Regions from separate parts of the Homo sapiens genome. Here all the other regions are linked to region 4. Evidence: fine-mapped expression QTL. A gene starts in region 4. Each other region holds a variant in brackets. All regions are shown on one strand. Distances are from middle to middle. Region 1 has its middle 39 kb from the start of B4GALT5. Region 2 has its middle 25 kb from the start of SLC9A8. Region 3 has its middle 49 kb from the start of B4GALT5. Region 4 holds the start of B4GALT5 (beta-1,4-galactosyltransferase 5). Region 5 has its middle 11 kb from the start of SLC9A8. Region 6 has its middle 12 kb from the start of PTGIS. Region 7 has its middle 19 kb from the start of SLC9A8.

Region 1 (4,067 bases), 39 kb after region 4:
CTTGTACGCGTGGTTTCATGGGGTAGTTGCACCTGTTTCAAAGAGAGATGGGTCACCACAAACTGGGCAGAAACCACACGATATGTCCATGATGCTCTGCAGCTGAATGAAGTTATCTACAAAGAAACTGAAGCCAAGGCCAGGCAGAAGTCAGGCCTGAAGCTAAGAATTTGTTTCCCCAAGACAGGAACATTCCTGCATCTGGAGGCTGAGGCTGCTTGGACAGAGAAGTGCATCCAGCTGCCAAGGTGAAGCTCTGAAGGGGCCTGTCCATGAGAGCAGGGCCAAGAACGCCTAAGCCCACCAGTAAGATGCAAGAACACCTGTGCGAAATAATAATAATGATCATAGCTGGGTGTGGTGCCTGACAGCTGTAATCCCAGCACTCAGGGAGACAGAGGCAGGAGGATCACTTGAGCCCAGGAGTTTGAGACCAGCCTGGGCAACCTGGCAACCCCTTCCCCACACCCCTTGTCTCCACAAAAACGACAAAAAATTTTTAAAATGATAATAATATAAAATAGCACTAATAATAAATGTTATTCAGTGCTGCTGACCAGGTATCACTCTAGACACTTAAATGAACAGCATTTTTGCTTTTTTGTTTCTTTGTTTTTGAGACAGAGCCTCACTCTGTCCCCCAGGCTGGAGTGCAGTGGCACCATCTTGGCTTATTGCAAACTCTGTCTCCTGGGTTCAAGTGATTTTCATGTCTCAGCCTCCGGAGCAGCTGGGATTACAAGCGTGTGCCACCACGCCCAGCTAATTTTTTGTATTTTTAGTGGAGACGGGGGTTTCACCATGTTGGTCAGGCTGGTCTCAAACTTCTGGCCTCAAAGTGATCCACCCGTCTCAGCCTCCCGAAGTGCTGGGATTACAGGCGTTAGCCACTGTGCCTGACCTAAATGCGCAGCATTTTTAAGCCTAATGATACAGTCAGATGGGTATTTATTATCCTCATTTACAGAACATATATTGAATGAGTGAGCATTAACTGATCTTTCACCTTATTAATTCACTTAGTCATTCACTCACTCAATGGATAAACAATTAATGAATGCCAACTATATGCCAAATACCATGTGTGCTGGGTGTTGGGACACAAGCAGTCCTGTCTTTGTGAATGTTACAGTAAAATGTTGGAGGCTCTGAAGGGTGAGTGGTCATTAATTAGACGGTTAGACTAATAAGAGGGGAAGGGAAAGGCATTCCAGGTAGAAGGAACTCCATGTGCTAAGGCACTGTGGGGGAAGGGCATGTGTGGGGTGGGAGCAATGCCTGTTGACTGATGGTGTGCCAGAGAGGCAGAGAGCCACGCAGTTTACACCTGCTGGCTCACTGACCCTTACCACAGTCCTGTGAGATAGCTACTGCTATTAATATCATTTTGTAGATGAGGAAATCGAGGCACAGAGAAGGTAAGTAACTTTCCCAAGGACACACAGCACCATTAGCAGTGAAAGAGCAGCAGTTATAACCCAGGCCTGTGACCAGAATTCTGAACATCTCTAATCTTTAAGTAAAGGAAGGCAGGAGAAATTGGTCCATTTGGGGCAGGTGTGTTTTCTGGGAACCTTCCAGCACTATTTTCACTTGCAGCTGTAGCCACAGGCTACATAGATGATTTCCAGAATGGAGGGGAAGAAGAGTGCACCCAGCCTTTCCTGGCCACAGGCAGGAATCCTTTTAGCCAGTTATTAATGCTCAGCCACAGGAGATGCCGCAGTGAGACACACAGAGGAGCCAGACCAGGGAGAGGCAGCAAGAAAGACAGCATTGATCCTGGAGGTATACATTTAGGAGAGAGAACCTGTCAGAACAGAAAGAGCTTGGACTTGGGACCAGGCCAACCTCAGCCCAAATGGCAGCCCTGCTACCCACCAGCTCTGTGACCTTAAGTAAGTTTCCTCTTAGTCTCCAGTTCTTTATTCAAGCAGAGTAAAAGTATGCTTCCC[G/A]CCTCCCTCCCACCTCCATCCTGTAGCCAACAGTCCCCCCTCCCCAGAGGCAGGCACTATGACTAGTTTCATGCATCATCTTCCGGGTAAATTGTAGAGAGATAGATGGATGAATAGAAGTATATATGTGTGTGTATAATATAGTACACACATATATGCAAATATTGTAACTATTGGGATGCTTTGACTAAGTACAAAAAAACCTACAGATGCAAGATTTACTTATTAAGAACTGTGGAGATAATAAATGCCTAATTTCTGTGTCCAACTGCTCATTAATGTCTAGTAAGAATCTCAAATTTAACATGGTTAAGATTAAACTTTTATTGTTATTATTATTATTTTGAGACAGAGCCTCACTCCGCTGCCCTGGAGTGCAGTGGTGCAATCTTGGCTTACTGCAGCATCAACTTCCCAGGCTCAAGCAATCCTCCCACCTCAGCCTCCTGGGACTGCAGGTGCACACCACCACGCCTGTCTAATAAAATTAAACTTTATGATTCCTCACCCTCCAAACCTGTTTCTCCCTTACTAAATACCTGGTTACTCAAGCCAAAAATACACTGAAATAATTCTGGATTTTTCTCTCTTTCACTCACTTTTTTTGGGGGGTGCTGGGGTGCAGTGGCGCCACCTCAGCTCACTGAAACCTCCACCTCCTGGGTTCAAGGAGATTCTTGCGCACCAGCCACTGGAGTAGCTGATTACAAGTGTGTGCCACCATGCCCAGGTTTTTTTTTTTTGGTTTTTTTTTTTTTTGGTATTTTTAGTAGAGACAGGGTTTCGCCATGTTGGCCAGGCTGGTCTCGAACTCCTCACCTGAAGTCATCCACTTGCCTTGGCCTACCAAAGTGCTAGGATTACAGGCATGAGCCACCACGCCTGGCCTTTCACTCACTTTTTACATCTGATTCATCACATAGTCCTGTCCAGCTTTTCTGAAAATCTAGAGATAGATCCACCATTAAGTGAATGAAGCAAAGCTGAGATCAGGGCTCTTCAATTGCACAGCCCCTTCCAAATCTAGCAATATGTTCACACAGTCATGTGTTTCTGCAACATCTGCAAAGGTAAGTATTTTAGCTGCAACTGGTTAGACAAGGTCTCTCCAGCTCCCCAACGTTGCCTGCCTGGGAATGTGCATCGGGTGGCATTTGGGGAGCTATGGGCAGGGATCAGCTAAGGGGAAGATGAGTTAGGGAATCCATTAAATTTGGGTTTAGTGGATGTAATCTTTTTTTTGTTTTTTAATAGAGGTGGGGGTCTCACTGTGTTGCCCAGGCTAGACTTGGGCTCCTGGGCTCGAGTGATCCTCCCACCTCAGGCTCCTGAGTAGCTGGGACTACAGGTGTGCACCACTGCACGCAGCTTTAGCGGGATGTAGTCTTGTAGCTCACGATCTTTTCGGTGAATAAGGAAAGTATTGCTTGTTGTCCTGGCAGAGAAATGGCTTCCAGGATACTCCTTCTGCCCATGCTACTGACTCACCCAGTATCAAGACACAAAAGTCTGGCACGGTGGCTCATACCTGTAATTTCAGCACTTTGGGAGGCCAAGGCAGGAAGATTGATTGAGCCTAGGAGTTCCAGACTAGTCTGGGCAACATAGTGAAACCCTATCTCTTCAAAAAAAAAAAAATTGTTTTAGCTAGCCTGGAGTGGTGGTGGTGTGTTCCTGTAGTCCCAGCTATTAGGGAGGCTGAGGTGGGAGGATCACTTGAGCCCAGGAGGTCAAGACTACAGTGAGCCATGATTGCACCACTGCACTCCATCCTGGGCAACAGAGAAGCCCTGTCTCAAATTAAAAAATAAAAATAAAAAAACAGGCACAAAAGTGACTGGGCACAGTGGCTCACGCCTGTAATCCCAGCACTTTGGGAGGCCGAGGCGGGCAGATCACGAGGTCAGGAGATCGAGACCATCCTGGCTAACATGGTGAAACCCTGTCTCTACTAAAAATACAAAAAAATTATCTGGGCGTGGTGGCGGGTGCCTGTAGTCCCAGCTACTCGGGAGGCTGAGGCAGGAGAATGACGTGAACCCGGGAGGCGGAGCTTGCAGTGAGCCGAGATCGTGCCACTGCACTCCAGCCTGGGCAGCACAGCAAGACTCC
Region 2 (4,067 bases), 74 kb after region 4:
GGCCAGAGGTTCTAGAGGTCAGCAGCAAGTCATGCATCTGAAGAGGAAGTTGATTGCTGTACCTCAAGCTGAAACAGAAACTGCGGTGGCTAGCAAGGAAGGGTCCCCACCTGTGCGCCTCAGCCCCTTGGCCATTGCCAGCTTCCAACAGACCACAGAGACTTTTGGGGGAAAACTTTTTTATTGAAGTGTAACAGACATACAGAAAAGTGCACAAATAAGGAAAGTGCACAGGGGAGCGATGGCTCGATACATTTTCACAAAGGCAGACAGCGGGGTAACCAGCCCCCAGCTCAAGGAACAGAACATTCCCCGCCCCGGAGAAGCTCCCTTCAAGTCTTTCCCATCCTAAGCGATAACCGTTATCCTGATTCCAACAGCAGTGATGATTTTTGCCGTTTTTTGAACTTGATGAAATGGCAGCACATAACACGTATTCTTTTGTGTAAGACTTACTTACTACAAACTTTGTATGTTTGTAGCAACAGCCTTTTGACCCTGTCTCTTCCTCCATGCCCTCAAAGAGAAAAAGGAACCTAATAATAACACAAAATAAAGCGAAAGCATACTTGCTTGACTGGTTTAAATGTGCCATCTGGCCGGGCATTTTGGAGGCCGAGGCGGGTGGATCACTTGAAGTCAGGATTTCGAGACTAGCCTGGCCAACATGGTGAAACCCCATCTCTACTAAAAGTACAAAAATTAGCTGGGCATGGTGGTGGGCACTTGTAATCCCAGCTACTTGGGAGGCTGAGGAAGGAGAATCGCTTGAACCTGGGAGGCAGGGGTTGCAGTGAGCAGAGATCGTGCCACTGCACTCCAGCCTGGATGACAGAGGGTGACTCCATCTCTCAAAAAATAAAATAAAATAAAATAAAATAAAATAAAATATAAAATAAAATGTGCCATCCATTCTTTCATGCTTCAGCCACCCAGTGGGCTGGAACTGTTACTGCTTCCATTTCAAATATTGGGAGGCTGAGGCACAGAGAGGTTAAATAATTTGCTCAGCCAGGAAGTGAAGGTCTGTATTTAAAGCCAGGTCTCTCTGATCTCCAAGCTCATGTTCTAACCCAGCATACACTCCTTATCAATAAAATGACCATGTATTGAACACCCTCTTTGGACTGAATACTATACTTCAACTTTATGTCCATTGTCTTATTTGATTTTCCCAGCCGTTGATGAGTAATATACCATTATCCTTGCTTAGCAAATGATGAAAGCAGGGTTCAGAGAGGTTAAGGAACTTTCCTAACGTCATACAGCCCAGGAAGGCATGAAATAAAAATTTAAACTCTATTTTGTTGATTCCAAAGTCCAGTGCAGAACGATATCAGTACCCAGCATTTATGCGCATCTTTCAAATATACCTTCTGAGGCCCTGCAGGGTGGCTCATGACTGTAATCCCAGCACTGTGGGAGGCCGAGGTGGGTGGATCAGTTGAGGTCAGGAGTTCAAGACTAGCCTGGCCAATATGGTGAAACCCCGTTTCTATTAAAACTACAAAAATTAGCCGGGTGTGGTGGCACACGCCTGTAATCCCAGTTACTTGGGAGGCTGAAACAG[G/A]AGAATTGCTTAAACCCCGGAGGCAGAGGTTGCAGTGAGCCGAGATTGCACCACTGTACTCCAGCCTGGGTGACAGAGCAAGATTCTGTCTCAACAGAAACAAACAAACAAAAACAAATATACCTTCTGAGTTTTTCAAAAAAGAGACAACAATAGCAGTTACCTTTTATGGATCATCTCAGAGTCAGTTGTTTTGGTCAAAGATTGCAAATGATCCCTTAATTTGTGTTCTTGTCTTCTCTCTCCTAGTAAGAGTATACCTGATTTTTAGCTTGGCACATGGCTTCCCATGGCTTTACTACCTATCTCAGCCTTCCTTGCAGCTAGGGGTAGCCACATGACTAACTTATAGCCAGTGAAGAACTGTTCCCCGACATGCCCACATGGCTCATGTCAACCCCAGCATTACATCATTTGTTTAAACTCTCAGTTTCTCTGTCTTGAAAATAGGGATTTAAATATTTATTTAAGCCAGGTGTGGCTGAGGTGAGAGGATCACTTGAGGCCAGGAGTTCGAGACCAGCCTGGGCCACACAATGAGACCCCTGCCTTTACAAAACAATTTTTTAAAAAAATTAGCTGGGCATGGTGGCGTGTGCCTGTAGCCCCAGCTACTCAGGAGGCTGAGGTGGGAGGATTACTTAAGCCTGAGAGGTTGAGGCTGCAGTGAGCCTTGATTGCGCCATTGTGCTGCAGCCTGGATGACAGAGCAAGACCCCATCTCAACATATGTGTATACATCTATCTATCTATCTATCTATCTATCTATCTATCTATCTATAGCTATATCTGTCTCATCTCTCTCTCTCTCTGTCTATATATATATATATATATATATATATAAATAAATATGTTCTTTTTTTTTTAATTTAACAAAAGCAGGAAGTAGACAGACACAGTGGGTGGTTCATGCCAGTAATCCCAGCACTTTGGGAGGCCAAGGCGGGAGGATTGATTGAAGCCAGGAGTTTGAGACCAGCCTGGGCAATATAGTGAGACCCCTAACTCTACAGAAAGTTTAAAAAAAAAAATCAGCTGGGTGTGGTGGTATATGCCTGTAGTCCCAGCTTCTTCACATCACTGCACTCCAGCCTGGGCAATAGAGCATAACCCTGTCTCTTAAAAACAAAAAACAGGAATATATGTAGTAGAGTCACCTTGAGTGTGGATTGGGAGAAGAAGCTAGGACAGGAAGGACACTAATGTGTTTGTGTTGGGTAAACAAACCCTGTTTATTGGGAGACCACCTGCTCCAGAAGAAAAGACACCAGGTGAAGACAGGAAGCTGGGTGCTGCTAACTGAATGAGCTGGGACAAGGCCCTTCCCTTACCTAGGGATAGATAATAAAAAATATTTTATTGTATATTTTTAAGGTAGTAGTTCCTTGTCTGCAGAGTGGGGATTTAGATTACATCTATCCTTTTGGTTTTGTCTACTCACTATGAATTCCCCTATCATAACAGCATCCTAATTTCTCTGGGAGCCCCCTTCTTTACTCCCTGTCCATGTGAAAGGCATGCAGCACTAACTTTATCCTTGGTTCCAGGAAGGCCAATGCTCCATGCTGGCCAATCAGCACCCCTCATTTCTCTGCCCATAGGGATTGGCTCAGAAATGGGCACCTGCCCCAAGTGGACCAGTGAGTTATCCCTCAGGTTTTTGCTGGGATTGTTTTGCTTCTGCTGCGCTAGGCTGGTATGAAGAGGGTCTGAAGCTCAAAGGTAGCCACCATTGTGAGAGTGAAAGACTGAGCCCTGATAACTTATGAACCCCTGAATCCAGCTGTACCTGAAGGCAGCCACATATTCCTGAACATGTTATTCTCCATGAGTCAATATGGTTCCTCTTTGTTGTTTTTTTGTTTTTTGTTTTTGAAATGGAGTCTCGCTGTCACCCAGGCTAGAGTGCAGTGGCACCATCTCAGCTCACTGCAACCTCCACCTCCCGGGTTCAAGCAATTCTCCTGCTTCAGCCTCCTGAGTAGCTGGGACTATGGGCACGTATCACCACGCCCAGCTAACTTTTTTGAATTTTTAGTAGAAACAGGATTTTGTCATGTTGGCCGGGCTGGTCTTGAACTCCTGACCTCAAGTGATCCACCTGTCTTGGTCTCCCAAAGTGCTGGGATTACAGGCATGAGCCACCGCGCCCATCCTCAATATGGTTCCTCTTTGGACTTAAGTCACTGTAGCAGATGACGTGGCTTCTGTGTCCATATCCCCTTGGCATTCATCCTTTTGACCCACAGTGAGTGGATGGCTTCAAATTTCCACGCCTATCTTTGCAGCCTGAGGGCTTTGCTCTCATATACGCTCTGCATACACAGTCTGAGAATGCTGGGGGCTTCACCCTCCCCTACAAGCAGCCCTTAACCAATGAGTGACAGGGGCTGGTGGATAAATGTCCCCACTCCCTTGCCCTTCACCTGGATAATTCTGAGGTGTATTGCACTCTGTGTCCCACAGTTCCCCAGCAGGGTTGAGCCCCAGCTGCCCA
Region 3 (4,067 bases), 48 kb after region 4:
CTGGCCAACATGGTGAAACCCCGTCTCTACCAAAAATACAAAAATTAGCCAGGCATGGTGGCAGGCGCCTGTAATCCCAGCTACTTGGGAGGCTGAGGCAGGAGAATTGCTTGAACCTGGGAGGTGGAGGTTGCAGTGAGCTGAGTTCGCTCCACTGCAATCCAGCCTGGGTGACAGAGCGAGACTCCATCTCAAAAAACAAAACAAAACACAAAAAACCAGATCATCAGATGGACAAAACAGACTCTTTGTGCAATAAGATACCAAATTCCAACCTGACCCTGTATGTGATGTAGAGCATAACAGTGACAGATAACAGGCCCTAAGGAAAGTCAAAGTATTTTACCCCAAGATATATTTATTTGACATATTTTGGAGTGACCCTGCAAAGCCCACTCTTTGCCTTCTGTAGCGAATCCCCTTCCTGTTCCAGGTCTTTTCCTGATCCAGGAGAGAATTAAACTAAGAGTCTAACACCTTTTGAGGTCTAATAAGAGAAATCTACCATCTATCCTGTCTGAAGCTGGGTGCTTAGAGGCTTCATCTACATAAACAAGAACCTTGGCTTCCACAACTCTCTTACCTTAACTCAAGCATTTCTTTTTCTTTCTTTTTTTTTTTTTTGAGTTGGGTTCTCACCCTGTCACCTAGGCTGGAGTGCAGTGGTGTGATCTCAGCTCACTGAAACCTCTGCCTCCCAGGTTCAAGCCATCCTCCTGACTCCACCTCCTGATAGCTGGGAGCACAGGTGCGTACCACCACGCTGGGCTAATTTTTGGTAGAGTCAGGGGTCTCTCCATGTTGCCCAGTCTGGCCTGGGACTCCTAGGCTCAAGCGATCCACCCGTCTTGGCCTCCTAAAGTGCTGGGATTATAGGTGTGAGCCACCGCACCTGACCTCAAACATTTCTTTATGCTGACTTCAACTCCTCAGGCAATGCTTCACTCTTTCAATCAATTGCCAATAAGGAAATCTTCGAATCCACCTATGCCCTGGAAGTCCCTCTGCTTCCATCTTTGAGATGTCCTGCCTTTTGAGGCTGAACCAATGTATACATTTCATGTATTGCTTTATGTCTTTGTTTGTGACTTCCATCTCTCTAAAATGTATAAAACCAAACTGCAACCTGACCACCTTGTGCATATGTCCTCAGGACCCCCTGAGGCTGTGTCACGGGCCATGATCACTCATATTTGGGTCAGAATAAACTTCTTCAAATATTTTACGGAGTTTGGCTTTTTTCCTCAACAATACTTACCTCTCCCTTGCTTCAAACCCTCCCATGGCTCCCCAGTACTTTTTCAGTTTTTTTTTTGAGACAGAGTTTTGCTCTTTTTGTCCAGGCTGGAGTGTCGTGGTGCGATCTCCGCTCACTGCAACCTCTGCCTCCTGGGTTCAAGTGATTCTCCTACCTCAGCCTCCTGAGTAGCTGGGATTACAGGCACCCGCCACCACATCCGGCTAATTTTTGTATTTTTAGTAGAGACGGAGTTTCACCATGTTGGCCAGGCTAGTCTTGAACTCCTGACCTCAGGTGATCCACCCGCCTTGGCCTCCCAAAGTGCTGGGATTACAGGCGTGAGTCACTGTGCCCGGCCACCCCCCCAGTACTCTTAAGACAGAGTTTGAACTCCTCACTGATAAAGACCTGCAAGATCTGGCACCTCCTGGTCCCCTGCCATCACCCATGACCCTTCCTACTTCATACTTGTTCCCCAGCCAGACTGAACTACTTTTAATTGCCTAATATTATTACTAGAAAGGGGTCCTGATCCAGACCACAAGAAAGAATTCTCTCACAAGAAAGAATTCGGGATGAGTCCACAGAGTAAAGCAAAAGCAAGTTTACTAAGAAAGTAAAGGAATAAAGGCCGGGCGCGGTGGCTCATGCCTGTAATCCCAGCACTTTGGGAGGTTGAGGCAGGGGGATCACCTGAGGTTAGGAGTTCAAGACCAGCCTGGCTAAAATGGCGAAAC[C/G]CCATCTCTACTAAAAATACAAAAAATTAGCTGGGCCTGGTTGTGCGCCCATGTCATCCCAGCTACTCAGGAGGCTGAGGTATCGGAATTGCCTGAACCCAGGAGGCCGAGGTTGCCATGAGCCAAGATCGCACCACTGCACTCCAGCCTGGGCGACAGAGTGAGACTCCATCTCAAAAAAAAAAAAAAAAAAGTAAGTAAAAGAATAAAAGAATGGCTATTCTGTAGGCAGAGCAGCAGCATGGGCTGCTTGACTGAGTGTATTTATGGATACTTCCTAATTATGTGCTAAACAAGGGGTGAATTTTTCATGAGTTTTCCAGGGCAGGGTTGGGGAGCTCCTGGAAGTGAGGGTTTCTCTTCTTTTTAGATCATATAGGGTAGCTTCTGGACATTGTCATGACTCTGGTGGGAGTGTCTTTTCGCATGCTAATTAGTGTATAATGAGCAGTGAGGACAACCAGAGGTCGATTTTGTTATCATCTTGGTTTGGATGGCTTTTGACCTGCTTCTTTACTACCTCTTGTTTTGTCAGCAGGGTCTCAATGACCTGTATCTTGTGATAGGAATCCTGCTGGCCTCTTATCTCAACCTGTGAGAAAGAATGCCTAACCTCCTGGGAATGAAGCCCGTTGGGTCTCATCCACATTTTACCCAGCCCCTATTCCAGATGGAGTCGCTCTGGTTCTAACACCTCTGACAATATCCTATATTACCTCCAGACATTTGCGTATGCTAATTTCTCTCCCTCCTCCCCCATTTCATGTGGCTGTCTCCTCCTTCGTCAGGTCTCAACTCAAATGTTTTCTCCCCCAAGAGGCCTTCCTTGATTTCTTTTCTTTTTTTTTTTTTGAGATGGAGTCTCGCTCTATCACCCAGGCTGGAGTGTAGTGGTGCGATCTTGGCTCACTGCAACCTCCGTCTCCTGGATTCAAACGATTCAGCCTCTTGAGTAGCTGAGATTACAGGCACCCACAAACATGCCCAGATAATTTTTGTATTTTTAGTTGAGACGGGGTTTCACCATGTTGTCCAGCTGGTCTCAACCTCCTGAGCTCAAGTGATCTGCCCGCCTTGGCCTCCCATTAGTGCTGGGATTACAGGCATGAGTCACCGCACCCAACCACCTTCCTTGATTTCTAGACTGGATTCTGAAACCCCTTAGGGCTCCCATTGCACCTTTGTGTTTACCCTGTTGAAACAGCTATCAAACTGGATTATGGTTGTCTGTTTTCAGGACTGCTCTCTGCTCTCTCCTATACTACCTCTAGCTTTTTTTCTTTTTCAGATGTAGTTTTGCTCTGTCACCCAGGCTGGAGCGCAGTGGCACTATCTCGGCTCACTGCAACCTCCGCCTCCCAGATTCAAGCAATTCTCTTGCCTCAGCCTCCCAAGTAGCTGGGACTACAGGCGCACACCACCATGCCGGCTAACTTTTGTATTTTTAGTAGAGACTGGGTTTCAACCTGTTGGCCAGGCTGGTCTCAAACTCTTGACCTCAGGTGACCCAACCGCTTCAGCCTCCCAAAGTGCTGGGATTACAGGCGTGAGCCGCTGCGCCTGACCTCTAGCTCTTTTTTCTAACTGTTGGCCTGCTTTCCAAAAGTTGGCTTAGGCCCATGACTAGGTTCTTGGCTGTAGACTCACAAAGAACTGCTTCCCAGAGACCTCTCCACCACCTCCCTTTTGCAGTTTTACTCCAGCAGTTGGATGTGCTTGGTTTCTCAATCTGACTGGTGACTCTTCTCTGATCCTCTAAGTCCTTTTTTGAGACAGTCTTGCTCTTTCCCCTGCAAATTCCAGGTCTAGGCGTTTTTCTTTTTCTTTCTTTCTTTCTTTTTTTTTTTTTGAGAAGGAGTCTTGCTCTGTCGCCCAGGCTGGAGTGCAGTGGTGCGGTCTGACTCTCTGAAGGCTCCATCTCCTGGGTTCAAGTGATTCTCCTGCCTCAGCCTCTCGAGTAGCTGGGATTACAGGCATGTGCCACCATACCCAGCTAATTTTGTATTTTTAGTCAAGATGGGGTTTCTCCACGTTGGTTAGTCTGGTCTCGAACTCCCAACCTCAGGTGATCCGCTCGCCTCGGCCTCCGA
Region 4 (4,066 bases):
AAAATCCATATAATCCAAAATTTTTCTAGCAGAATTTACTCTCCCTGCCCCTACCCCAGCAGCATCTTCTGATCATTTTTCACCATAAACTGAGGTTTCCTCATAGTGATGCCAAGTCAGGCAAACACATTCCTTAAGCGTTCCACCTAACTCCCTTCTTCCTGGAAGTTACATGTAATAGCTGCCTTTATTTACTTATTTTTAAAACTCTTCAAGCACCAGGTACAGTGGTAAGTGCTTTTAAAGAACATGTATCTACTTCCATCCTTAACACTGTATGAGATTGGGACTCACATTCCCATTTTACAGAGGAGAAATGCAAAGGCTTAGTAACCTGCCCAAGGTCATACAGGGCAGAGATTGGAATCCAAGTCTGACCTCTGTGTCCTCCGCTCTTAACCTTCATGCTGTCTTTCCTTCTGATCTCTTCCTGTCCTAACTGGTGCCCTGTGGTCTTATAAAAGACTATGCTTGGGGCAGGCGGGGGAGGGGTGGGAGGGTCAGTTTCTCCAGAGACCGCCTTTCCTTTAAAGGATAAGACTTTGAAAAGAAGGAGTACCCATTACATCTTTCCTCCATGCTCCCCCTTCTCACCTGGTACCATTTCCCAAAGGCCCCAATCATATCCCCTTCTCTACGGACAATTTAAACTTCTCCTTTGTCCGCAGAGCAGGCACTATCCAATACTGAAGAACCACACCATCTACCCTCAAGGCTAGGAGAGGGCAGAAGTGGAAGAAAGAACACAGACAGCACCCCTTCCCCAGGTCTTCAGTTGAGAAAGAAGCTGTGGCTGAAAGTCTGGGGGGCTGGGGGCAAAGGTGACAAGGATGTGCCCTTGTGGGTACGCGAGGTGGGGGGGGGGGAGATGGGGAAGAGGCATGGGACGCTCAGGGGATTAGCAGGAGATTGAATGGGGGTGGACCTCTGTAAGGGGAAGGGGGGTGCCACCGGCAGGCAGAGAGATCAGGCCACTGAAGAGGTGAACGTGAGTTAGGGAGGAGGACCTGGAGGTGGATGTAATAGGGGAAGTAGAGGAAGAAAGGGGAGGGAGGGGGCTCACGGGAGCAGGAAACGATGGAGTCATGGGGAGTGGGGGAGGATGGATGGGAGCTAGAAGGTGGGGCGGCCTGGGACCCGGGCACATGGGCTCGGCGAAGAGCGGGCGCGCCGCGGGGGACTGGGGTGCGGGGAATGCCGGGAATGGGGGTTCGAGGAGACCCCGGGGAAGGGAAGGGGAAGCGGGAGTTCTCGAGCAGAGGAGCGGGAAGTGGGAGTTCCAGCGAGGCAAGAGCGGGAAGGGGGTTCCGGAGCAAGGGGCGGGCGTGAAGGTACAGTCGGGTTCGCGAGGGTGGCGTTAGGAGGGGCGGGGTGGGCCGGAGGCTGGCGCGGGAGAGGGATCCCGGGCGCCTGTTGGGGTGCGGAGGGCAGGAATGTCCTGGCGTCCCCGAGAGCCGGGCCAGGACTCCGGAGTCTTCGGAGGACCAGGCTCAGGGCCGCCTCCCGGCCGGGGCCCCTTAGGGAGGGGCGGGGATTCCCCGGGTCCCTCAAGGCCAGAGCGGCAGCCGCCGCGGTCCCAAGCCCCCTTCCTACCTATGCCGGGCGCCACATAGACGAAGTACAGCAGCGAGGACGAGAGAGAAAAGAAGAAGAGCGCGGCGAGCAGCGAGCGGCGCGGCAGCCGCAGCAGCCCCCGGCGGGCGCGCATGCTGCAGCCAGGCGGCCGCTAGAGAGCCAGGCCGGGCCTGCTCCCGCAGCTCCCCGTCCGCCGCCTCCTGGGCCGCCGCCGCCACCGCCTGGGCCTCGGCCACCGCCTCCCGGGCCTCGCGGGCCGCCACTCGCCGCCGCCGCCGCCTCGCCGCTCCCAGCCGCCGGCCGTCGCGGGCCGGGCCACATGAAGCGGGCGGGGGCCAGAGCGGCCCCGAGCGGGCGCAGCGGCGGGGGCGGAGGCGGGGCGCACGCGCGGGAGGCGGGGCCAGTGCCGCCGGGCACCGTCGCAAAAGACCCGCGCGCTTGCGCTCGCCGCCGACCCTCGCTCGGCGCCCACAGCAGCCCGCATGGAGTAATCGCCAAATGGCGACAGACCCTCTCCCAGTGCGGCCACCGCCCAGGCTTTCGGGGAATGTCTCCCAAGTGCTCCGCGCTAGCTCGTCCCCCATCTCGGGGGCCAAGGGGCCATCTACAAAGTCTGACTCATCTCGTTGCCCACTGCAGCAGAAGAGTGGGGACTGCAAGGCTTGGGGGTTCGGCCTGGTATACACCCTCATTCATTCATTCATTCATTCATTCAATTCACCATTTATTTATTGAATGCCAGACACAGTTGTTGGCGCTGGGCATGCTACAGAGAAAAAAAACGATAAAAATCTCTGTCTACTTGAAACTTACATTATGTGAGAGATAAAAGAAACAAATCAGCTAGTAATATCAGGTACTGGTAACACATATGAATACGATAAAACAGGAGGATGTATTGCAGGCAGGCTGGAGTGGTCAAGGAAGGCCTCACTGAGCAGTGACACGAACTGAGATATAAAAGGGTGAGAAAGCGCCAGCTTTTTTGAATAAGCTGGGGAAAAAGCAGTCATACCAGGGGGAACAGCAGGTGTAAAGGCCCTGAGGTAGGAAAAGGGCTGATCTGCCCCCGAGTTGAATCCAAGGCCAACATGGATAAAATCCAGTGAAGTAGGGGGGGAAATAGGGATGAGCTTGGAGCTGTAGTCAGGGATCCTACTGTATCAGAAATAGCATAATGATAACAATTGTCAATGTCTCTAGACTTCTGCTGAGAAACATGGACTTCACTCATGCCATGAAATTCCCCCACCAGTCTTGAGATGTGTGCTGTTATTATTACTATCATACAAATGAGGAAACTGAGGTTTCTAGATGGAAAGGCAATTCACCCAAGCCTTGCAGTAAGGGCTTAAATCAAAACTGGCCTGTCTCCCATGTCAGGCCCTTGACCTCTAGGTTGTAACTGTCTCAGCAGTCTGTATGACCTCTAATTCTTATCCTGCAGGCAAATCGGTATCCTATCCCCATCACCTGGGTATGGGACCATATCCAAAAAAATGCTTTCAGATCAGCATCAGCTCAAAGGACCTCAGAAGGCAATGAACAGTCCTAGAAATTTATGGCAAGAAGCAGTAGCCTCAAGGAGCTGGACTGAGGAGGCCAGTGTCCCTGTGTAGACATATCTGAAACTAGGGTACTGTCTTGGAATGCCAGAAGCAGTGGGGAGGGGAGAGGACTTTGCAGGGATTCTGTGAGAATCAACAATAATTCTGATTTATATTCCTAAAGTGATTTCTACTTTTTACAGTGTTTCTTTGATCCTTTAAGTGGGGAGTCTAGAGCCACACTGCCCAGGTTCTCTGACTCCCAGCTTTTCCATTGTTAGCTGTGTGACCTCACGCAAGTTAAACTCTCTGTGCCTCGGTAAAATGGAGGAGGTTATTAGCAACCTCATCAGGTTGTTGCGAGGATTTAAGTAATACATGCAAAGTGCACATAGTAAGAGTGCTTAGCTGTCACCTAATTCAATACCCCTGGAGAATGGTATGGTGGAAGAGAAGAGGCTTAAACGATCAAAAAGGAAAGCAGAGAATTTTGACTCAGATAGATGTGAGTTCAAATCTCGGCTTGGCATCTCCTGGCTGTGTGACTCTGGGAAAGTCACTTACCTCTCTGAGCTTCTCTATTCATCACCTGTGAATCGGACCCAGTGCTGCCCACCCCACGGGGATGTGATGTGGATTCGATGAAATAGTGCAGGTAAGGCCCTGGACCAGAAATCCCAGACTAGCCGGAATCATCTAACTTGCAAATAGTTTTTGTTGGCCCACACAATGGCCCCTCCCAACCCTCGTATCTATGAAACATTTTCAAACATACAGAAAAGTTGAAAGAATAGTACAAGAAACATCTGTACACTCCCCACCTGGATTTGATCATTGTTATCATTTTTCCACATGTATGTATCTATATTCATATGTTGAAAATTTTTATTTTTTGCTAAATATTTAAAGGTAGGCTGGGCGATTACACCTGTAATCCCAGCACT
Region 5 (4,067 bases), 88 kb after region 4:
GTAGACATGGATCTGCTTTGACCTTTGAGACGAATGCATGGAGATCTATTGATCGGATGGGCCACGTTTGTTTCCCACACTTCGTTGAAAAATTGGGGGTGAAAAAAACTGGGAGTGAAAAAATGGCCAAACCAAAAGAAGGGTGAGTCATTCCCTCCTACCCCAAAATACAGAGGAGAGGGTGAAGAAGGAGGACCGCCCCTCCTCGCTCCAGTAAAGCCTTTAACAGGCCCATCCTGATTTACAGGGAGCGGACTTGGTTTCCTGTTCAAGAATTTCCAAGGCAAAAACAATCCTCAAACACATGAAGATGAGGTTGGGCAAATAACTCATGGATGGTCTCAACGCTGGAGGGCAAAGTTGTTTATTAAGCTCCCGACCCTCAAAGGGAATTACTTAAATTTTTTTCTTGATTATAAAAGTAGTATTCCAGCCTGGGCAACAAGAGCGAGACTCCATCTCAAAAAAAAAAAAAAAAAAAAAAAGTATTGGCTCATCACTATGAAAAAGCATTTTCAGAGAATACAGAAAAGTGTGAGGAATAGAATAAAAAACAGTCATAATTTTGGAGCATTTTGTAAGTTAGCCCATAGATTTTTTAAATGCATACACATGTACTTAATTCTAAAGTGAACCTGTGCTATCTTTTTATTTAACAGTAATCCTAAGATTTATTGAGTATGTACAATGCATATGCTAGTTGCTCTCTGTGTATTAATCCATTTTATATTTACAGTAGTCCTGTGTGATAAGCACTATTATTAATTCAATTTTATAGATGGGGAAACTGAGGCAGAGAGCAGTTAAGTGATTTACCCAAGATCACACAAGGTGGCCAAGCTGGAATTCAGAAACAAGTAATCTGGCTTCAAGGCCCATGACGTTAACCACTATACTACATTGCTAAGGCAGAGCAGAGACCCCTCCCAAGTTAATACCCATAGATATGAGTCATCCTTTTTAGTGCCTGCACTTATTCTTCTATTACTAGATAATTGGGCTTTTTCTAGTTTCCCCCTACTAGGAAATAGAGAGAAACTTCCCTTTTGGGCTTTAAATTAGACAAGAAAATATGCGGTTAGATGTCACCACAACTTGTACTTCTTTTTTTTTTTTTTTTTTTTGAGACAGGGCTCGCTCTGTCACCCAGGCTGGAGTGCAGTGGTGCGATCACAGCTCACTGCAGCTTTGACCTCCCAGGCTCAATCTATTCTCCCGCCTCAATCTATTCTCCCACTTCAGCCTTCTGAGTAGTTGGGACTACAAGTGCACACCACCGTGCCTGACTATTTATTTCTCTTTTCTGTAGACATGGGGTCTCACTGTGTTGCCCAGGCTAACAACTGGTATTTCTAACCCAGGAGAAGCAACGAAGGGCTCAGCCCTACTTTGAAGCAATCGCCCCATTATGCACATATATATTGACTGGGGGAGGTTATTTTATTTAAGAAACATCCATGAAGTACTTATGTGCCAGACAGACATGGCTTCAAGAACTTCTGAATAGGCTGGGCACGGTGGCTCACGCCTGTAATCCCAACACTTTGGGAGGCCGAGGCGGGCGGATCACGAGGTCAGGAATTCGAGACCAGCCTGGCCAACATGGTGAAACCCCGTCTCTACTAAAAATACAAAAACTTAGCTGGGCGTGGTGGTGGGCGCCTGTAATTCCAGCTACTTGGGAGGCTGAGGCAGGAGAATTGCTTGAACCCAGGAGGCAGAGGTTGCAGTGCAGTGATCCGAGGTCACGCCATTGCACTCCAGCCTGGGCAACAAGAGTGAAACTCTGTCTTAAAAAAAGAAAAAAAGAAAAAAGAACTTCTGAATATTAGCTCACTTCACCCAAAAATAATACTCTGAAATACATACCAGGGAAACTGAGGCACAAGGGGGTTAACTTGCCCAACATGACAGAGGCAGTAAGTGGCAGTGCTGAGATCTGAACCCCGGAAGCTTGGCTCCAGTGTCTGGGTTCTTAACTCCCAATCAGCCTCTCTGTCTACCCCTTGGCCCAAGAGAGCTGGCCC[G/T]CCCTGGGGTACTCAAAGCAAACCCACTTTCAGCTGAGGACTGACGGCAGCAAGGTGAATATATCTATTTTTCCTTTTAAGTGATACTCATGTATTAGCTCACAGTTCTGTAGGTCCTAAGCTCATGCAGGCTCTGCTGTGTTATACGTTCAGGGCATCACATGGCTGAAGCAGAGATGTCAGCTCACTGGAGTCCTCATCTGGAGGCTATGGGAGGAATTGGACTCTTTTCAGATTGTTGGCAGAATTCAGTTCCTTGCAGCTGTAGAACTGAAGCCCCCATTTCCTTACTTGCGATTCTCTCTGCAACTAGAAGCTTCCTGCATTCCTTGTCCTGTGGCCCCTTCTTTTTTTTGAGACAGAGTCTCGCTCTGTTGCCCAGGCTGGAGTGCAGTGGCGTGATCTCGGCTCACTGCAAGCTCCGCCTCCCGGGTTCATGCCATTCTCCTGCCTCAGCCTCCCGAGTAGCTGGGACTACAGGCGCCCGCCACCATGCCCAGCTAATTTTTTTTTTTTTGTAGTAGAGACGGGGTTTCACCATGTTAGCCAGAATGGTCTTGATCTCCTGACCGCGTGAGCCACCCATCTCGGCCTCCCAAAGTGCTGGGATTACAGGCATGAGCCACCGCGCCCAGCCTATATCTTTTTATTTATGGCAAATATTTTAACTGTCCCACAGATTTGTCTTGAATAAGAAGCAAAGAGACGGGAAAACCCCTTAGAAACAGGTGTGTAATGGGACTTTTCTTTTGTTTCAGTTTTGGTTAAGGGCTTCGTGCTGAGGTACTGTGGCTCTCTCTAGAGACAGCTGAATGTCTGCTGAGTTAGAAAAGGGGAGACTTCCCCAAACCGTCTATGAACCCTTAGCCCATCACCTGTGTTGAGGGTGTACCGGGAAGACTTGAGGATTACTGAGGGGAAAATAGAGGTTATGGAGAAAGTTTCCCCTTCATTGAAAATGCCTGGGCAGGGTGCGGTGGCTCACGCCTGTAATCCCAGAACTTTGGGAGACCGAGGCGGGTGGATCACCTGAGATTAGGAGTTCGTGACCAGCCTGGCCAACGTGGTGAAACCCCATCTCTACTAAAAATACAAAAAATTAGCTGGGCGTGGTGGTAGGCGCATGTAATGCCAGCCACTTGGGAGGCTGAGGCAAGGAGAACCCAGGAGGCAGAGATTGCGGTGAGCCAAGATCGCGCCATTGCACTCCAGCCTGGGCAACAAGAGTGAAACTCCATCTCAAAAAAAAAAAAAAGTTTGCAAAAATAAAAAAATAAAAAATAAATAAAGGGCCGGGGACAGTGGCTCACTCCTATAATCTCAGCACTTTGGGAGACACGGGCTGGCAGATCCCGTGAGCCAAAGAGTTCAAGACCAGCCTGAACAACATGGCGAAAACCCGCCTCTACAAAAAAATACAAAAATTAGCCAGGCACAGTGGTTGTGCCTGTAGTCTCAGCTACTTGGGAGGCTGAGGTGGAGGATCACCTGAGCCCAGGAGGTTGAGGCCAAAGTGAGCAGTGATTGTGCCACTGTATGCCAGCCTGGGTAACAGAGTGAGACCCTGTCTCAAAAATAAAATAAAATAAATAAAAATTAGAAGAAGAAATAATTGAAAATTCTGAAAAACATAAAATAAAAAAGGCAGTTTCCTTGGAGTTTTCTGTGCTACTGTGGACATAGCACATAGTAGGTGCTTAATCCATACTTAATGATTTATGTCAGGTGCTAGTCTAGGTACTAGACCCCCTGTGAGCCTAATGGGGATGACAGGTCACAAGGAAGTAAATTTGAAAAAGAAACAACATTGTGCTAAGTGAAAGAAGCCAGTCATAAAATGCCACAGATTTTATTCCACTTACATGAAATGTTCAGAATCCGTAAATCCATAGAGACAGAAAATAAAGTAATGACTGCCAGGGGATGGGGCAGCAGGGAGTGACTGCTGATAGGTGCAGAGGTTCTTGTTGGGGTGCCAGAAATGTTTGGGAATCAGACAGTTGTGATGGTTGCATAACATAGTGAATACACTAAAACCCA
Region 6 (4,067 bases), 130 kb before region 4:
CTGGCCTACATGGTGAAACCCCATCTCTACTAAAAGTACAAAAATTAGCTGAGCATTGTGGCAGGCACCTGTAATCCCAGCTACTTGGGAGGCTGAGGCAGGAGAATCGCTTGAACTGGGAGGCGGAGGTTGTGAGCTAAGATCGCGCCACTGAACTCCAGCCTGGGCAACAGAGTGAGATGCTGTCTAAAAAAAAATCTCATCTCAAACACACAAACATTTCACTGCTTTAAAAAAAAAAAAATAGAAATCTTTGGTGGATGTTCAGCCACGCTCATGGTTCACAGCTCCAAACTCTGATGCACAGGCAATCACATAGCCCAAATGTCTACATGTCCTGCATGTCCGCAGAGGGCTAGAGTGAGAGAGCCTGGGCTCCACGGCCAGACTATGTGAACTCAAAGCCTGGCACCCGCCCCCCCACTTAAAAGGCCTCAGGCATATTGCTTATCTGTGCCTTTGTTTCCCCAGGTGTCAAATGGAGTTGGTTGTGAGGATGAAAAGAGTTAATCTCTGGAAGTATGGAAAGCCTTGGATAAATGTGGGCTATTAGCATTATTTTCACAGCCTCCCAACCTCCCTCCACTAATACCAGACACGCTGGAGAGAGTTCTCTGTCTCCCTAACCATTTATTTGGTGATCAGAAGGACCTTCTGCCTGTGATTTCTGACCTGGCAGGATACTGGGGGACCACTTTTGCCTCTGCCTGGAGATAGCATGTCTGAGAATGAAACCGACTTACAGGGCAGCAGAACCAAGAGATAGGGAAATACAGTTTCTTGAGATATCATTTGAACCCCCGGATTCAGCCATGCCTGAAGCCAGAATGCTCCTGACCACATGAACCATTAAATTATTTTTGTTTGCTTGTTTCAGCCAATTTGGGTTGAGTTTCTTTCACTTGCAATAGAAGAAAGTTCTCCATTCTGAAGCTGAATAAGGTAGTATGTGAAGTACTTGTTTCATACCTGGTGCTTAATGGATGAAACCTTATTACATTCTCATTTCGTAAACCTTCTCCAGGGCTTTCTGGGAGGCAACCAGATATGAATTAGAGTGACACAGCTTTGCACTCCTTGCCCAGCCTGGATAAGATGCCCCATTCGCAGCAAGCTCTATGCAGTCAGGGCCAGCTTCATGGACATGCAACCTGGGTGCTCACATAGGCCCCTGCACCCAGAATGGTCTCATGCTCGGCTTAGCGCTCTCCTGTCACCAGCTTGAAATTCTTAATTATTTTTGAACAAGGGTCCCCATGATTTTACTTTACTCTGGTACCCACAAAGTATATAGCTGGTCTTAATACCAGTATCATCTCCACTTTCCAGGTGAGGAAACTGAAGCTCAAAGAGGGGAAGCAAGCAGCCCAAGGTCACACAGCAAGAAAGGGGTGGAGCTGGGAATCAAATTCTGATTCTGAGGCCCAAGTTCATAACTGCGATGTGCCAGTGCCTGGACAATTCCTCATATGTGGATGGCACTTCACAGTTTATACTCTAGTGCATAGCATTTGACCCTCATACCAGCTTTAGAAGCAGAAATTGTCATGCTGGCATCAGGCAGAGTACTTGGGTTTGTTCAAGCCTCAGAAACCAACCCTGGCTAATTTAAGAAAAAGAAAAGGTGGGGACGAGGTATTGGAAGGAAAAGTTGACCAGCTGGGACTTGGAAAGGACAGGAACAAGCAGCTCCGGGAACGCGGGGAGCAGGAGCCAGGGGTGTGGGGAGCAGGAACCAGTGGCCAGGTCTTCGGGGCTCCAGCTGTTTCCAATCTCAGCATTCCTTCCGCTTCAGTTTCTGATTCTCCCACGAGAAAGTCTGATTGGCCATGTTTGGGTCATGTGCCTGCCCACAGACCTTGATGGTCAACCAAACAAGGTGGGAAGGATGATCCCCCAAAGGCGGGTCAGAAAGTGGGGTGGGAGGGCTGAAAGCTGGGCAGGGACGGCTGTGTGCGCATTTTACAGATGAGGAATGGGAAGCCCAGACAGAAGGCAAGGCCACAGAACCGGGAATGGTGGAGTCTGGGCTCCAGTCAGAGGCCCAGGCTGCCTCTCTTCACTCCCAGGACTCCAGGCTGGCAGGGGAACAGGAGGGCATTGTTCTCCCTGTTGGAGTGAATGGCCGCCTCCTGGGAAACCCAGGACCCAGATGGGGTCTCCCCAGGGCGCAGGAAACTGCCTCAGACTGAGCTGTATTCAGGGGTC[G/C]AAGCCTCCTCCCCACCCTCCCCCTACAGTGGACAGACTCCCCCTTCAAATCCAACCTCACTGCTCAGCTCTAGCCCTATGGTTTTTAAGAGAAGCTAGTGGGGGAAAGGCTTATTTTTCCAATGTGCATTTTTTCCGGTATGTAAGATACTGTGTGGACCAAATAAAATATGTCCAGACCTGGAAACAGCCCAAGCATAGCTAGTTTATAAGTCCTGGAATGCTCCTTCCTGCACACAAAAATTAAGGGTCTGTTTACATAGATATGCTAGTGTGTTGGAGTTGAACTTTTCCTTACTCTGAACTCAGATATGCAAAGAAAAATGAGCCTTTTACATTTTCCATGGATGTCATCTAGTTCAGTGATTAGGAGCAAGAGACATGCTGGAGCCAGAGAACCTGGGTTTACATCTTGGCTTTGCCACTATGTGACCTCAGGCAGGTCACTTAACTTCTCTGAGTCTCAGTTTCCTTTAAGGGACATATGTACACACGGGTGTGGCATTTAATAAAAACCACAAAAGTCCCTGCTACTGCTCTGTGTCCATGGTATGATGTTGGTCATGAGCCCTCACACTGGAAGAAATACAAAATCTTAAGCCAGGCTAATCATTTAAACTGTCTATTTAGGCAAGACAGGCTTCCCCTGGGGTATTTCAGGGACAAACTCCATTGATCAGTTTCCCACCTTCCTCTGCTCCTCTTCAAGAAGCTTCTGCCTGAACACCACTTTGGTAACAGGGAAACTGAGCTCCGAGGAGAGAGGTCAAGGTTAGGAAATGTCATTTAGTGAGTGTCCCTTCTGCACAAAGCCGTATAGGTACGCAAGCTCCTTGAATCCTCATAACCATTCTGGATGGAAAGAATCAGGACTCCCTTAACCAACATTGTGGAGCTTGCAAGTAACGGAGGCAGCATTAGATTCCAGGATGTTCAACTTCGAGGCCTGCCTTTTCTCTGCTCCTATTAACTGTGTATTCCCATTCCTGGTCATAAGGCAAGATTCAGAGGCATCTGTGCTCCAATTGACCATGGCGCTTGATCCCAAAAGGAAAAACTCTTTCTCTCTCTCTCTACCTGATTAACAATAATAATAACAATAATTTAATGGCTCAAGCAGGGAAAGTCCAGTGGTGGGAAATCCTGGCTTCAGGGAACTGGGAAGAAAAACAGCTTCAGGAATGGCAGGATCCAGGGGCTCCATGGATGTTGCCAGGACTCACTTCTCTCTCTAAGCAATGCTTTCCTTTGTATTGGCTTCTCCCTCAGGCAGCCTCTCCCTGTTTTGTATCAAGATAGCCTTAGCAGTCCTTATGCCCTGGCAGCTTGGTGATGCCAGCAGAAGGAGACTCTGGGACTAACTCTGGTTGGCCTTATTAAGGTCAGATGCAAATCCCTTTACTTCTTTCTCTAGCTCATATCGGTCAGGCCTGCGTCGCCTTCCCACTTCTAGATCTGGAGGTAGAGACTAGGGTAGTTTTCTCACATTGATGCCCTAATTAATGACCTTCCTGCATCCGAGCCCTTTGCAGTGTGAGTTTATTTCCACATGATCTGAATCTGGGCTTGGCCTTGAGACTTGCTCTGACCACTGGAATCCAAGGGAAGTGATGCTGTGCCTGCTTCCAACCTAGGCTTCAAGAGTCTTCTTCACTTCTCCCCTCTCTGTTGGAACTCTGGATAGCCACCATGAGAACAAACCTGGGCTAGCCAGCTGCAGGAGGAGAAACCATCTTAAGAAGTGCCTGGTCCCCCAGCAAAGACTAACAGCGCAACAGCCAGCTGACCTATCAGAGTTTGTTTTTTAAGCAATCTTATCTACCTTCTTGCAGGACTAGGATTGACAGATGACAAAAAAA
Region 7 (4,067 bases), 80 kb after region 4:
AGGAGGAAGTGAGAGAAGCCCACTTCTCTCTGACTGGAGAACAGAGAACAAGGGGAACAGAGGGAAGGAAGAGGGGCGGTAAGGGAATAGACCATGACCTTGTGGTCCATGATGTGGAATTCAAACTGTCTCCTAAGGCCAGTGGTGACCACTGAATGCTTATGAGTAAGGCAGTGACATAATAGCAACTGCTAATATTTATTTATTTATTATTTTGAGATGGAGTTTCACTCTTGCTACCCAGGCTGGAGTGCAATGGTGTGATCTTGGCTCACTACAACCTCTGCCTCCCAGTTCAAGCGATTCTCCTGCCTCAGCCTCCCAAGTAGCTAGGATTACAGGAGCCTGCCACCACGCCCAGCTAATTTTTTGTATTTTTAGTAGAGATGGGGTTTCGCCATGTTGGCCAATCTGGCCTTGAACTCCTGACCTCAGGTAATCCCCCCACCGTGGCCTCCCAAAGTGCTGGGATTACAGGTGTGAGCCACCGTGCCCTGCCTGCTGATATTTATTGACCACTTATTCAGTGCCAGACTTTTTTCTAAGCTGCTAACATGTATCATTTAGTATGTATTTGCAACAACCCTGTAATTAAGGTTCTCCAGACCACGAGCAAATTACTCAGCCATTCTGTGCCTCAGTTTCCTCATATGCACAATGGGAGTAATCATAGAACCTACCACAAAGAGTTAGTATGAGGGTTACAATGAGTGCTTGGCACATGGGAAATGCTGTGTATGTATTAGCTTTTGCTACTATTATTCCCATTTTATAGATGAAAAAGCTGAAGCCCAGAGAGATGAATCAGTTTGTCTGAGGTCACACAGCTAATGCTAATAAGGCATAGAATGAACAGGACAGGTGTGGCGAAGGTAGAAGTGCTGGTGGGCGTGGAGAAGCCACATCTTCATCCTAGGAGTGATGGAAGTGTGGACCACCCATTGGGACCCATGTGGCCAGCCTCTGTTCTGACTGGTCAGTGCCTAGGTCATGCCGGTTCTTAAATATTTCATTATCACCCTGTTATTACTACATATATGACATTGTTTTGTGGATTTAATATTTACACAAACGGTATCATACTAAATGTTAACTTCTGCAAGTCCCTTTTCTCACTCAACATTACTGTATGTTTAAGATCTGTTTAGATCTAGTTCATTCATTTTATTTTCTTTTTTAGAGATGGGGTGTCACTATGTTGGCCAGTCTGGTCTTGAAATCCTGGGCTTAAGTGATCCTCCCACCTTGGCTTCCCAAAATGTTGGGATGACAGGCGTGAGACACCGTGCCCAGCCATTCATTCATTGTTTTTTTTTTTTTTTTTTTTTTTTTGAGACAGAGTCTCGCTCTGTCACCCAGGCTGGAGTGCAGTGGCTCACTGCAACCTCTGCCTCCTGGGTTCAAGCGATTCTGCCTCAGCCTTCTGAGTAGCTGGGACTACAGGCACATGGCACCACACCTGGCTAATTTTGTATTTTTAATAGAGACGGGGTTTTGCCACGTTGGCCAGGCTAGTCTCAAACTCCTGACCTCTCAGGTGATCCACCTGCCTTGGCCTCCCAAAGTGTTGGGATTACAGGCGCGAGCCACACCATTCATTGATTTTAATTGCTCACTAGTATTCCTTTACAGGAACATGTCATGGTCTCCTTGCCCACTATCCCATGGATGCCTATTTAGTCCACTGCACTTTGGACCCATTGTAGGCAAAGCTGCCACACCCAACTTTGCATATGTTGAAGCTTCTCTAGGGTGAATACCAGGAAGTGGGATCACTGGTC[T/G]CAGAGTTCATACGTTTCAACTGCCAAGCAGCAGTACATGAAGAGTTCTTGTTTCTGCACTTCCTTACCGATGAAAATAATACCACTACCCCACATGACACTTACTATGTGCCAGGCATCTTTCTAAACATCTAACATGAAATAACTCATTTAACCTCTCAAAAAACTTTGAGGTGAGGTACTATCATCATCTCCACTAGATAGATGGAGAATGAAGACACAGAGAGGGCAAATAACTAGCCCAAGGTCACTCAGCTAGGAATAGTAGAGCATGGCATGAACCCAGAGAGGCTGGTTCCAGAGCCTGGGCTGTTCATCACTCCTGTAGGCCTTGGAATTTTCTGGTTTTCAAGTTGCTGCCAGTTTATGACTGTGAAATGTCTCTAAGTGCTTTAAGTTGCATTGCCTGCTTAGAAGGGACCTTGAGGACCTTTCCATCCATTTTTTGGCCAATCAAGCATCCTCTTCAGAAAAATGCCTCTTTCTAGCCTTGGCTGTCCCTGAGTTTCTGATCTTTTCTGCAAGTATGCCTGGAGGCCAGGACTTGGGGCGGGGCCTGGCACAGTGAGCGCACTTGGTAAAAATGTACCAGACTCACCAGGCATGGTGGCTCATGCCTGTAATCTCAGCATTTTGGAAGGCTGAAGCAGGCAGACTGCTTGAGCCCAGGAGTTCAAAACCAGACTGGTCAGTGTAGTGAGACCCTATCTCTACAAAATAAAAATTAAAAATTAGCTGGGCGTGGTGGCACATGCTTGTAGTCCCAGCTACTCAAGAGGCCTCTGAGATGGGAGGATGGCTTCAGCCCAAGAGGTCGAGGCTGCTGTGAGCTACGATTGCACCACAGCACTCCAGCCTGAGTGACAGGGCAAGACCTTGTCTTTGGGAAAAAAAAAAAAGTGTTCACTTTGGCAGCGCATATACTAAAATTGGAACAATACAGAGATTAGCATGGCCCCTGTGCAAGAATGACATAAAAAATTGTGAGGTGTTCGATATACAAAAGAAAAAAGAAAAAAAAGTGCCAGACTGACTGGTGGTGTCTTTCACGTCTCTCACCCTCTCTTCCTCCTGGGAGGCCAATGCTGATGAATAAAGCTTCTGCTTAAGTCACTGGCCCACGTCTGTGCTGTGCTGGGCACGCACAGTGGCCCTCTTGCCTCAAGCTCATTTCCTCTTCTGTTATCTGACCCTAATCTAGTTCATGATCTGATCTCATCTCCTTCGACTCTCCTTGTCTCTTGTTTCTCATGAACCCCACTGGCTGTCCTCCTGTCTCTTCAGTGGCCAAGTTCATTTCTACCTCAGGACTTTTGCATGTGCTGCTTCCTCTGCCTGGAACACTCTTCCCGTAGTGGCTCCAACTCATCCTTCAGGCCTCAACTCAAATGCCACCTCCTCAGAGAGACTTTCCTGATCACTCTGTTTAGAAGAAACAGAGGCATGAAGAGATTGAGCATAATTGTCAAAAATTGTACAGCTGGCTTATTGATGAGATTTTTGAATTATGTTATCTTATTATGTGCCTATATTTCTAAATTTTTTCTACAGTGGTGATGTGTTCCCTGTGTGAATTTTTTAAACCTCAAATTCAGGCTGGACATTGAGGCTCATGACTATAATCCCAGCACTTAGGGAGGCTGAGGCGATAGGATCGCTTGAGCTCAGGAGTTCAAGACCAGCCTGGGCAACATAGTGAGACCCCATCTCTACAAACAATTTTAAAATTAGCCAGGAATGGTGGCATGCACCTGTAGTCCCAGGTACTGGGGAAGAAGAGGTGGGAGGATGTCTTGAGGCTAAGAGTTGGAGGCTGGAGTGAGCTATGATCACACCACTGCACTCCGGCCAGGATAACAGAGCAAGACTGACTCTTAAAAAAAAAAAAAACAGGCCGGGCGTGGTGGCTCACGCCTGTAATCCCAGCACTTTGGGAGGCTGAGGTGGGCAGATCACGAGGTCAGGAGATCGAGACCAACTTGGCTAACACGGTGAAACCCCGTCTCTACTAAAAATATTTAAAAATTAGCCAGGTGTGGTGGCGGGCACCTGTAGTCCCAGCTGCTCAGGAGGCTGAGGCAGGAGAATGGTGTGAACCCAGGAGGTCGAGCTTGCAGTGAGCTGAGATCGCGCCACTGCACTCCACCCTGGGCAACAGAGCGAGATTCCATCTCAAAACAAAAACAAAACAAAACAAACAAAAAAAGCAAAAAAGAAAGACCTCAATTGTTGTTGTTGTTGTTGTTGTTGTTGTTGTTGTTTTGAGATGGAGTCTTGCTCTGTTGC

What was found. PIP is the estimated chance that this variant, and not a neighbour inherited with it, causes the effect.
Region 1: its variant is fine-mapped to the expression of B4GALT5 in whole blood (TOPMed, PIP above 0.99).
Region 2: its variant is fine-mapped to the expression of B4GALT5 in whole blood (TOPMed, PIP above 0.99).
Region 3: its variant is fine-mapped to the expression of B4GALT5 in whole blood (TOPMed, PIP 0.96).
Region 5: its variant is fine-mapped to the expression of B4GALT5 in whole blood (TOPMed, PIP 0.99).
Region 6: its variant is fine-mapped to the expression of B4GALT5 in whole blood (INTERVAL, PIP above 0.99).
Region 7: its variant is fine-mapped to the expression of B4GALT5 in whole blood (TOPMed, PIP above 0.99).

Annotation. Positions count from the first base shown.
Region 1 is chr20:49,751,323-49,755,389 of GRCh38, forward strand. No RefSeq gene overlaps it. Among named protein-coding and RNA genes, the nearest start is that of B4GALT5, 39 kb to the left of the region's middle. The variant G/A (reference allele first, on the strand shown) is at 1,956.
Region 2 is chr20:49,785,914-49,789,980 of GRCh38, forward strand. No RefSeq gene overlaps it. Among named protein-coding and RNA genes, the nearest start is that of SLC9A8, 25 kb to the right of the region's middle. RefSeq lists an enhancer at 1-9. The variant G/A (reference allele first, on the strand shown) is at 1,571.
Region 3 is chr20:49,760,465-49,764,531 of GRCh38, forward strand. No RefSeq gene overlaps it. Among named protein-coding and RNA genes, the nearest start is that of B4GALT5, 49 kb to the left of the region's middle. RefSeq lists an enhancer at 1-127. The variant C/G (reference allele first, on the strand shown) is at 1,978.
Region 4 is chr20:49,711,983-49,716,048 of GRCh38, forward strand. B4GALT5 (beta-1,4-galactosyltransferase 5) reads right to left here and starts at 1,896. Exons shown (of 9, transcript NM_004776.4): 1 at 1,594-1,896. The coding sequence starts at 1,708. RefSeq lists silencers at 1,369-1,488, 1,779-2,108.
Region 5 is chr20:49,799,884-49,803,950 of GRCh38, forward strand. No RefSeq gene overlaps it. Among named protein-coding and RNA genes, the nearest start is that of SLC9A8, 11 kb to the right of the region's middle. RefSeq lists an enhancer at 3,058-3,187. The variant G/T (reference allele first, on the strand shown) is at 2,028.
Region 6 is chr20:49,578,255-49,582,321 of GRCh38, forward strand. No RefSeq gene overlaps it. Among named protein-coding and RNA genes, the nearest start is that of PTGIS, 12 kb to the left of the region's middle. RefSeq lists an enhancer at 1,866-2,440. The variant G/C (reference allele first, on the strand shown) is at 2,209.
Region 7 is chr20:49,792,131-49,796,197 of GRCh38, forward strand. It overlaps the pseudogene RNU6-919P. Among named protein-coding and RNA genes, the nearest start is that of SLC9A8, 19 kb to the right of the region's middle. The variant T/G (reference allele first, on the strand shown) is at 1,782.